2 separate regions of the Homo sapiens genome follow, and region 2 is linked to region 1. The links come from fine-mapping of genetic effects on gene expression. A gene starts in region 1. The other region holds a variant in brackets. All regions are shown on one strand. Distances are between the middles of the regions.

The links. PIP is the estimated chance that this variant, and not a neighbour inherited with it, causes the effect.
Region 2: its variant is the best candidate, but not a certain one, in a credible set for the expression of INTU in esophagus mucosa (GTEx, PIP 0.50).

What each region holds. Positions count from the first base shown.
Region 1 is chr4:127,630,662-127,636,052 of GRCh38, forward strand. INTU (inturned planar cell polarity protein) reads left to right here and starts at 2,296. Exons shown (of 16, transcript NM_015693.4): 1 at 2,296-2,519. The coding sequence starts at 2,374. RefSeq lists enhancers at 1,944-2,483, 2,146-2,325.
Region 2 is chr4:127,708,514-127,713,904 of GRCh38, forward strand. It overlaps INTU (inturned planar cell polarity protein), which reads left to right. Exons shown (of 16, transcript NM_015693.4): 13 at 58-155; 14 at 2,400-2,589. Among named protein-coding and RNA genes, the nearest start is that of SLC25A31, 19 kb to the right of the region's middle. RefSeq lists an enhancer at 1-993 and a silencer at 441-735. The variant A/G (reference allele first, on the strand shown) is at 2,355.

The DNA.
Region 1 (5,391 bases):
AAACAAAACCATAAAACCTAGGAAATTCAAATGTATATAGTTTAATGTACATTTGTACATGTAATATACAAATTCAAATGTACATAGTTTAATGTATATTTGTACATGTAATGTACAGTTAATGTAAATACAACTAAACTTCAGCTTAAAAGTATAAGCTGCATACTGCAGCTTGTTTGGCTGTGAGGAAGGTAAAATATACTATCCTGGCCATTTAAGTTTAATACACTTGAAAAACAGCAAGTGCCTTTGTGCTGCTTCTTAAAAGCAACAGATGAAGCTCCCATGTGAAAGACACCCTCCCTATACTAGAAAAATGTAACATTCTTATTCTCAAGGGCATAGAAGTGAAACCAAGAGAATTCTGTACAGACCTTGTTAAAATAACTTATCTTTTAAGCTTCCCAATTTAGTTTAGTTGCTTCTTCACAACTAACTATTCTTTGTCCAATCCAGTATATAAGTTAACTGACTCTAACTGCTTCTTTGGGTCTTCATTTCTTTATGAGGGCTCCCCTGCCATGTAAAACTTGGATTCTAGAGCAAGGAGAGAGGTCTGTCTGCCAGGCTCAAATTTGCGAGGTGGGAGTGGGTTCCAGCCTATTCAGGGAATGGCCAGTTGGCCTGTATAGATGAAGCACAGAACTGAGAGAAAATTTAGGGCAGTTCCCCAAGTTTGCTGAATCACAGGGGGCACTTGTTTGAAATAGAGATTTCCAGGCCCCTCCACTGGAGATTCTGATCCTGTTGATGTGGAGCAGGGCCTCAACATCTGTATAACAAGTTCCAGTTGCTTTTCTTTTGTTAATCTATTTTAGGTAAGTTTAATTCTCAGGCCCAGCTGGGACCCTAAGAAGATGGAGGTAGAGTTTTTCTGCCCCTGCAACAGCTACAATTCAGGTTCCTTTGAGTTCTCCATGCATATACCCATACCGGCCATGTGATGACTCATCTCCCATTACTCTTTCTCTGTTGGAACCATGCCATAATAACAATATAAATTAATACTTCCTCTAAGAAATTTGTCATGGCCCCACGTATACTACTTTGGTTTTTTCTGGATATTCCATTAGAACCTTGTATTTATTGTAATACTTATCACTATGTTATAATTGCCCATTAGAGAATCCCCAGCACCCAGCCTTTTAGATCATAAAATAACATTATATCCTTTTTTTACACGCTGCAACATGAACATTTCCCCCATGCTTTACTCTTTGAACACATTCTAGTTAAAATCATAATCATCATATTTTATATATATTTAACTTTTCCCCCATTATTTGACATTTTAAGATTGCTTTCAGCTTTTCACTTTTACAAATTTTATAAATTTGCATCCTTTCTCAGAGTAGATATCTAATAGTTGAATTACTGGGTTCTGAGGGAGGAAATTTCATGTAATGGTTATTGACTTAGGTTCATTTCTTGGTTGACTTTGTTGACTGCTAGCCATGTAACCATTAGTAAGATGCATAACTTCTCTAAAGCTTAGTTTCCTTATTTAATATAGAGAAAATATTTACTTCATAGTATGTGAATGCTCAGCATTGTATATGAATAAAGTGAGCAGAGCCAAGGCTGACTCTCAATCAATGCTAGCTGTTATTTTTGTACTTAAAAAATACTTGATATAGGTATTCATAAATAACAGGTAGATTTTACCTGTTTACACTTCCAACTTTAATAATGAGAACACTTAATTAGATTATAAAATTTTGAGTTAGAAAATGAACATGAAGTTGATTCCACAGGATTGCCACTCATTTGTGGCACTCTACAATACCCACTTGGGATAACCGTGAAAATGTTTGCAATTGCGAAACAATATGAAACCCATAAAACAATGGAGCGTATTTACATTAACACCTAGATCGCGTTGCTTAAAAGCGTCCATTACTTGCACGGATGAGGTCCTAAGGAAAGGTAAAGTGCGGTTTCCTTCACCTCGAAGGAAATCCAGGCTGACCGACAGCTGTTAGGCATTAGAAACACAGGACAAAGAGCAAACTGGATATCCAGCACTGGAAGAAAAAGGTGAGAAGCCCAGTGCATCTCCGCCTGTTTTAACAGGTTATGCTGCTCTAAGGAATTGCGTTCCGGAGAGCGTAAGCGGTGAAGTTTTAGCTATTTCTATCCTTCCAACTGAGAAGCCCTCCTGGAAGTTTCAGCCCATTGGCTGCTTTCTGTTCTCCCTGTTTCTTCTGGGAAGCTTCTCCGTCTCCCTGGCAACGCGACCTGCCACCAATTGCAGCTAAGGATTGGTGGTCACATGGCCTCTGCCCCTTCCCAAGCAGAGGCAACATGGCGGCCTTAGCAAGCTATAGCTGCGAGATTTGAATTACTCCACTCGTAGCTATTGCATTCCTGACGATGGCCTCTGTGGCTTCGTGCGATTCGCGTCCGAGCTCAGACGAGCTCCCTGGAGACCCCTCTTCACAAGAAGAAGATGAGGACTATGATTTTGAAGATCGGGTCAGCGACTCGGGTTCATATTCCTCAGCGAGTAGCGATTATGAGTAAGGTTTTCAAAGAGGGACAATTAATCCCATCCCATCAATCCAGAGAATATACACGTGGGCTGGGGGAACTGCAAGGGTGTTGGCGTGGTTGGAATCGAGTATTTGGGGTTCTATAATAAGTGGGATTTAATTGCACCACGTTCCATTGTATGGTGGTGTGAGCAGAAATGACGATGCCATTCTTTGCTACTGTAGGTTGTTTTTTGTTTGTTTTGTTTTGTTTTTTCAATGATTCTTAGATGAGGAGAATCTCCTCTTTTTGGTCATGGGCTCTGTCTAGGCCATAGGAGGATATATCTGTAACAGCGTTCAAAAAACTCTGTTTCGATCGCAGTGTCTTGATTCTTTGGTGTGACCTTTGTGGCTTAATCTCTTTAGTATTTGGAGTGGAGAGACACCCTACGCGTTTTATAAGGCAGTTGTTAAATTTATGTAGATTTTTTCTGTTATGGAAATGAATAGCTATATAACAGAAGGAACGCCCACCCATAGTCTCACCATCAAGGACAACCTCTCAGCACTTCTGGATATTTCTGCTGTATTTTCCTATGCATCTCCATGATTTTCTTGTTTTCCATTTTACGTCATAATTTAATTTTTAAAAATACAGATACCTAAAGGTTTCACTTTCTTAATAATGCCATGAAAAGGTTATTTTGATTCACAGTATTCAGTGCTACTTCATTTTTAAGAAAAATCTACCCCTTACTGCTATGGATTAAGAACTTTAGAAAAGTCAACTAGCAGTAGCTTGAAGAGAATGACTAATCGTGAAAAAGTTTTGGTGCCAAAATGTCAACTAACCCAGTAATGGACAACCATACCTGGTCAGTTTTAGGATGACATTTTATGTGTATTTAGGAACAACAGTTACAAATCATTTATATGTATGTAGGAGCAACTGTTATTTGGCAATTGTTTTTACCTATCAGTATGTAAAAGATTTTTATCATTGCCTTTAAAAGTATGGTGGGGAAACCTGTTTAATACATTCTTGAAGACTTAAACAAATTTTAAAATATCGTATTTTTTTGTAATCTGCTGTAGGCATTAAAAAAATAATTTTAAAATTCATGATTATTACACAAGGCTGCTGGAAGGAAATATGAATTACATAGAACCTTATTTGGTCTTGGTATGTGAAGCCATAGACAGTGTAAGACTCAAACTCTTGGCTTCTCCACATTTTAGAGTCGCATACTTTTAGCCCAGAAAGAATCTATGATTCATGTATAGTTGCACAGCTGAGTGTTGTCAGTGTGAGAATTCAAGACGCCTGATACCTAATGGGCCACCATGACTTTGATGGGATTAAAATAGTGAACTTTGTTTCCTAGGAAATGACCAATCTGAGGACCTTGTGATAGGAGAACTTGTCACTTAAAAGAATAAAAGTATTTCATGATTCAAAATACATGTATGTATGTTATATTTTAGCTTTTAAAAAATGATCATTAAGCTTTTCACATGTCACTAATCACGCCACATGTTCTAGTGTCTTTATCCTCCTAATAATAAAAGTATAGAAAATCCCTATCATAAGATGTTTTGCTGGTCTGTATTTCAAGTCCTACCAAGTTTCAAATTTTAAGTCTGTCCCTTCTTGATTTGTAGGACATGAGGGTTAATTTGCTGAACTTACCAGGAAGGCTTATGTTCGGTTCTTCCCTTATGGTAGATGTTTACTTCCCTAAGCTGCAGTCATCATTACAAACAGTGGCCTTCCCAACTTGTACAGAACCACTCTTTAATCAAAGGCACAGGAATGCCAACCTTAGTCTTTCTCATTAAAGCAAAGACATGAATTTCCTATTGTATTTCATGGACTACGTGAAGCTTACTAAGGAAGTTGTACTGCATATTGACTCACATAAAGTATCCTGAATTTTCAAGGTTTTAGTTAACTGCGTGTTCTTTTTAGAAGTTACTGTTTCATACATGCTTTGTACCTGAGCTGTATGTGATTGTCAATATAGAATTTAAAAGTTTATCATCTTGGAGATAAAATTACATTATGGTAAATTCTGGTAGAGTTCTTTTAATAGGTTTGTTTTAGGTTTGTTAGAGAATAAGAGTTTATATTGCTGCAGTATGTCTTAAGTTGACACATGGGCACATACCCTGGGAGGCTTCCGAGATAATACTGGTGGGTTGGTTGGGTTGAGGGAGCCATTAGCTAGTTTTAGCATTAAGATAACAGAAATCACACATTCACCTGCAACAATGCCAAGTTACCAGCTAATATGCCTAGTTCATGTTACAGAGAGTTTGTCAATGTTGTGACTTGGATTTTTAATTTTTCAAAGTGAATTTTTTGTTGTTGTTACATCAGTTTTAAAACTGGCTGATGGAGAGAAACAGGAATCATTTTAAATGAGATATTAGCTGTTAAAGCTAAGGAACTTCCACCTAAAACACAAGGATTGGCTGGAGAAGGGAGGTATGTCCTTTAAATTTTTTTCTGGGACTTTAAAAATAGCTTCATTGAAGGATAATTTATATACAAAAAACTGCACATATTTTTAATGTACAATTTGATGTTTTAACATGTATACGTCTGTCAAGAAAATGAACATATCCATCTCGCCTAAGAGTCTCCCCATGTACCTACTTAAGTCCATTTATGCCTCTCCTGATAACCATTTATCTGCTTTTTGTCACTCTATAGGAGTTTGTAGTTTCTAAAGTTTCATAAAGATGGAATTGTGCAGTATGAATGTTCTTTTTTGTCTGCCTTCTTTTATTCAGCATAATTACTTTGAGATTCATCCATGTTGTTGCCCCCATTAATAGTTCATCTCTCGGCTAGGTATGGTGGCTCATACCTGTAATCCTGCTTTTGGGAGCCAACGCAGGAGCATTGCTTGAC
Region 2 (5,391 bases), 78 kb after region 1:
TCTGCTATATGATTCCATTCTTAGATATAAACTGATCTACTTAACTATATTTTTCAGGTCACTAAAAAGAAGTCTACTCTTCCAAATCCATTTCATTTGGGAAACTTGAAAAAGGACCTTCCAGAAAAAGAATTAGAAATATATAACACAGTGAAGTAAGAAACTTTCTTATTCTTGTTCACTTAAACTCAGGAAGTTTTACAGTGAGAAAGTACAATTTTATAACATGTATTTTACTCAACAAATGTAATTCTGATATATCTTACATATTAAAGGTAATATCTGTGGTATTTCTTTAATATTTCATTACACATTTAGGAAAATGACCATATTAGTATTATGAAAGAGAAAAACACACAAAGTAATATTTCAAAATGTGAAAGTCTCCCTTTATCTCTCCACAGGTAACCTCCCTTTTGTATATTTAATATAATTTTTAAATTAGAGTTTACTATTTTTTAGAGTGTTTGGTGGATGCAGTGGTGTGCTGTCCAGTTACACCTTAGCTCAGGGTATTCCTTTCCAACACTTGAGAATGGTGGCTGCTAATGCCTCACAGCTCCCCTAGCCTTGTCACTCCCCTAGCCGTGTCCTACACGGAAACTTGTTGACTCAGCTAAGGTTACATTCCTCCCTGGGAGGAGCCCATTTCTAATGACTAATAAATAAGTGAGTACAAAGGCTTGGCCCCTTGCCTAAATTGAAGACAACTCTGAAAGGCCAGCCAAGCTTCAGAGTACACAGTGGTATCGGCTGAGACTTGTTGCCGCTGCAGCACAGTTCATCTTCTCCCTCTGCTCAATCCTGCTCAGTCACTACACCCCTACAGCTGTTTTTCCCAAGAGTACTTCCTAATAAGTTTCCTCCCGGCATATCTCACTCTCAGAGTTTGGGTCCCAAGGAACTTGTCCCATAACACTCTCTTTAGAAAATAGGTATAATTTCAAACGTTCATTGAGTAGGGAATTCTGAGGTAAAAGAAACTGAGTGAGGAGAGAATGTTTAGCAACTTAAACTGTCTGTAATTATTATAATATGAAATGTTATATATTCACTTCTTGTGCACTTATGTGGTGACACGCAGGTCTGCCTGTGCCTTGGCAGGTATTTAATTATGACATCATGTGTGGGATCAACTGGTGTAATAAACTCAATTGCCTACTTTTATTTGAACAACTAGACACGTACTAATAGAATTCACACACACACACACACACACACACACACACACAGTACAGAGCTACCACATTCTTAATCACTGAAACACTTTACAGTAAGTTCAAATATATGTGTTACAAAGTTGTTAGAAAATTCTTTTTTTCTCAAGTCAAGACAAAAACAAAGTAACTTGTCTGCATAAAATAATACATTAGAAATCTGATGTGTTAAATTTTAGTATTTAATGCCTCCAAATATGAATGTTTAATTTTTTGATAGTTAAACATGATTTTAAGACAAATAAATTGGAACCAAACCTTTTATGGAACCCAAAAGTACCTTCACAAAACTCTAGTCTTCCATTTAACAAAAACTATTGCTCTGAAATTTTATTAACTCCATATCAGAATTTTAAAAATATGTATGTTGTGTTGGCATTGTCTCTAGTAAAAGGAGACTCTTTTTTCAAGTTCAATGGTTTAAACATAAATTCACATGTGGTGTAAATCATAGGCTCTCCTATTTTAAAAGGTGCCAAAGATGTGTGTTTATTCTCATTATTGACATGCAAAGATGTTTTTATATGATGTAGTTCATTTTAAAAGCATGATATAAAACAGGATGTAATATATTATCCTAACCTTTTATGCACCTATCTTTGTAAAATACAATATATATAATATATTGAAAATAATATATAAAACATTTCATTCAGTAACTAAGTCCTACCCATTCTGCATTCCAGTAGTTCTTGAGGAACATCAGTTTGACTATCATGGTAAAATACTTTAATGCTACTAACTTAAATGTATTTAATTTGTTGGAAGGTATTTTTATATGTGGTCTACCCTAGACTGATATCTTGTTTATGGCTTATAGCTATCTGGGCCAGACACGAGCTGAATTATTTAATACCAACCATGGAAAAAGAGACAGTTAGCCAATTTGGGTTGTTTAGCAAAGGAATGATTAAGTTACTTGCAAATGAATTGAGGTTTACTTATCCTTGCATAACATGTAGTATTTGCCTCCATTAAGGGAATTAATAACCCTAGCTTGTACTTCAGTTACGGATGAAGAGGGAATTAAATGTTTAGCCCAGTTTCCCTTCCCTAATTATACTACTAATATTATATTGTAGATAAAAGCTTATAAGAAGTCTACTAAATTCAAAATGAACCAATATTTTAAAATTT[A/G]CTAAAATTTCTTTTTTCTTCTCTTTGATTTTTTTTCTTTTTAAGACTGACATCTGGTCCTGAGAACACACTTTTCCACTACGTTGCCTTAGAAACAGTGCAAGGAATCTTTATTACTCCTACCCTTGAAGAGGTGGCACAGCTAAGTGGCTCTATCCACCCTCAGCTAATAAAGAATTTCCATCAGTGTTGTCTTTCCATTCGTGCAGTTTTCCAACAGACATTGGTGGAAGAGGTAGGGCACTGCTATAAATACAGTTTTCTGCCAGTTTAATTTCCAGATCTCTAAGCATTCTGTTATCTAATCAATATGCCCAGCATTGTTTTCATTTCATTAAGTTTTTTTAAATAGTCACTTAATCTAACGTGGGTGCCAAAACAATTATACTCACAGTACTTCAAGGTTTTATTTTATACTGAATCTGATGTCTTGGGTTACTTTTCAGGATATGGTAGACCTGTGTTTTCTACAGCAAAGCAAAATACAGTCGTTTGTAATGTAAATTAACCTTCCATATTTGATATCTGTGACTCAACCATTACTTGAGTAATAATATCTACCAATTGGTTCCTAAAATAACTCTGATAATTCTTTGAGTATTTAGCCAATAGTATAGGGATTTTGGAATATAATGGATTAAGGCAGGGGTCCCCAACCCCCCTGGGCCACATACCAGTAGCTCTCTGTGGCCTATTAGGAACCAGGCTGCACAGCAGGAGGTGAGTGGCGGGCCAGGGAGCCTTACTGCCTGAGCTCTGCTTCCTATCAAATCAGCAGCACATACGAGTGCAAACCCTATTATTGTGAACTGTGCATGTGAGGGATCTAGGCTGTGCACTTCTTATGAGAATCTAATGCCTGATGATCTGAGGTAGAACAGTTTCATCTTGAAACCATCCCTCCCCCAGAAATTGGTCTCCAATGCCAGAAAGGTTGGGGACTGCTGGGTTAAGGTACAGCTATAGACACAAGACTAATGCAAATTTTTTGGCATTTGGTTGGTTGATTGCTTGCTTGCTTTTCTATCCAGGATGAAGTTTCATTGAATGTTGTTATCTGTTGAATAAATAATAATGCTGTGTACAATTACAATATCAGATTATTTAAATGGCAGGAAAAGATAGGTGTTGATTTCTTGAAAAGGATAAAACTTACAGAGGTTTACTTGTGACGTTATACAGCCAAAAAACCTCTCTGAAAATGGTTGTAATGTATATAGCAATACATGTGTTAGGGATGCCAAATTTGTGAAGAACTTGGGTTTAAAAGTGGAAGAACATTGGACAAGGAATAAGGAATCCTGGACTGAGCCTCACCTCCTATTTCCTTAGCTATGAAGCAAGTGGGCTGAATTACATCATCTCTCCAGGTTCATTCAGCAGTAAAATTCTGTGTCTTGTAGGATTTTTTTTTGAGTCCTCAGAAATTGTTATTCTGTAAAAATACTGTGTTTGACCCTATATTCCTGTATGCTTTGGGTTCTTATGCTCCTATTTCCCTTTTTAACATTAACTGATAAATGTTATAAAGGAATATTTCATTTACTTATTTGATAATATTTAGTAATATAAATTAGTTTTCCCCATCTTATTTAAACATTGAGGTACCTACTCTGCACCAGACACTATTCTAGGAACGTGGGATACAACAGTGGACAAAACAAAGTCCCTTCCTTCACGAAGCCTATTTTCTAATTAGAAATTAGTATGCTGAGAAGAATTAGAAAATAGTATGCTGAGAAGAATCAGTGTCAAGCAAAATAATAAAACATGGTAAGGATTAGAGGTGGGAGTGACTATTTTGAAAGGTCTCTCTGATCATGTCAAGTGATACTTGAACAGAGACCTGAATGAAGTGAGGGAGCAAGCCATGTGGCTCTCTGGGGACAGAGCTTCCAGCAAGGGGAACAGCAAATGCAAAGCTGCAGAGCATTACCGCCTGAGGTCTGCCTCCTGTCAGGTCAGCTGCGGCATTAGGTTCTCATAGGAGTGCAAACCCTACTGTGAACTGTCCATGCAAGGGATCTAGGTTGCCCACTTCTTATGAGACTCTAATGCCTGATGATCTGAGGTGGAACAGTTTCATCCTGAAACCATCCCCTAGGGGCTGGGAGAGTACTGGAGCAAACTGAGTGAGAAGAAAGTGGAAGAAGAGATCACAAAGGTAGCAGGGCCAGCTTATGCATGGCCGGATAGACTATGATAAGGACTTTGGGCTTTGTTCTGAAAGAGATGATACATTCTTGAACAGTTCTGCCCAAATAAGGGACATGATCCGTAATTTTTTTAAAGGATCACTCAGGCTACTGTGGGTAGAACAGGAAACAGAATAGCAAGGGTGGAGGCAGGGACCAGTTAGGAGGCTTTCAAAATTCTCAAAGCAAGAAATGATTATGGCTTCTGGACTGTGGATATATTTTGGAGGGCAAACCAAAAAGATCTGTTGATGGATTAGATAAAAGCTATGAAGGAAAGAAAAGGATCAAGGATCACTCCACTGTTTGCCCTGAAACTTATAAGAAGCCTTTATAGTCCAAATGAGTCATTGTTTTGCTAATGCTTTAATCAGTATGAAATTTAGAGATTATGGGTCAAAGGAAGACAAAATACTGTTTTAAATATATATTTTTTCAATTTATTACAGAATTATCTGTTCATTTAGAACACATTTATTAAGCACCTACTATGAACCAGGCACTGCTGGTTTTAAAACACACAAAGAAGATTGCATATTGTCTCTTCCCTGGGGAAAAAAGCTTATAATTTTCTATCTTCCACTGTGGAAGACAGATCTATAAACTGCTAATATAATATAATATACATACTAATAATATAGGCCTGTGAACAAAGTGTTCCCTAGAAAAGTCAAGGGACACTTTATCCATGAAGTCTCCTTTAGGATATGGTATTTAAGTTTTGAGGAAGAGTAGAAATTTTCCTGCAGATAAGAAGAATGTCATTGCAGGCACTGAAGTATTTGGATCAGCCAATTCAGATTACTCTGTGAAAACATTTTAAAGTAACACTGGTAATACCA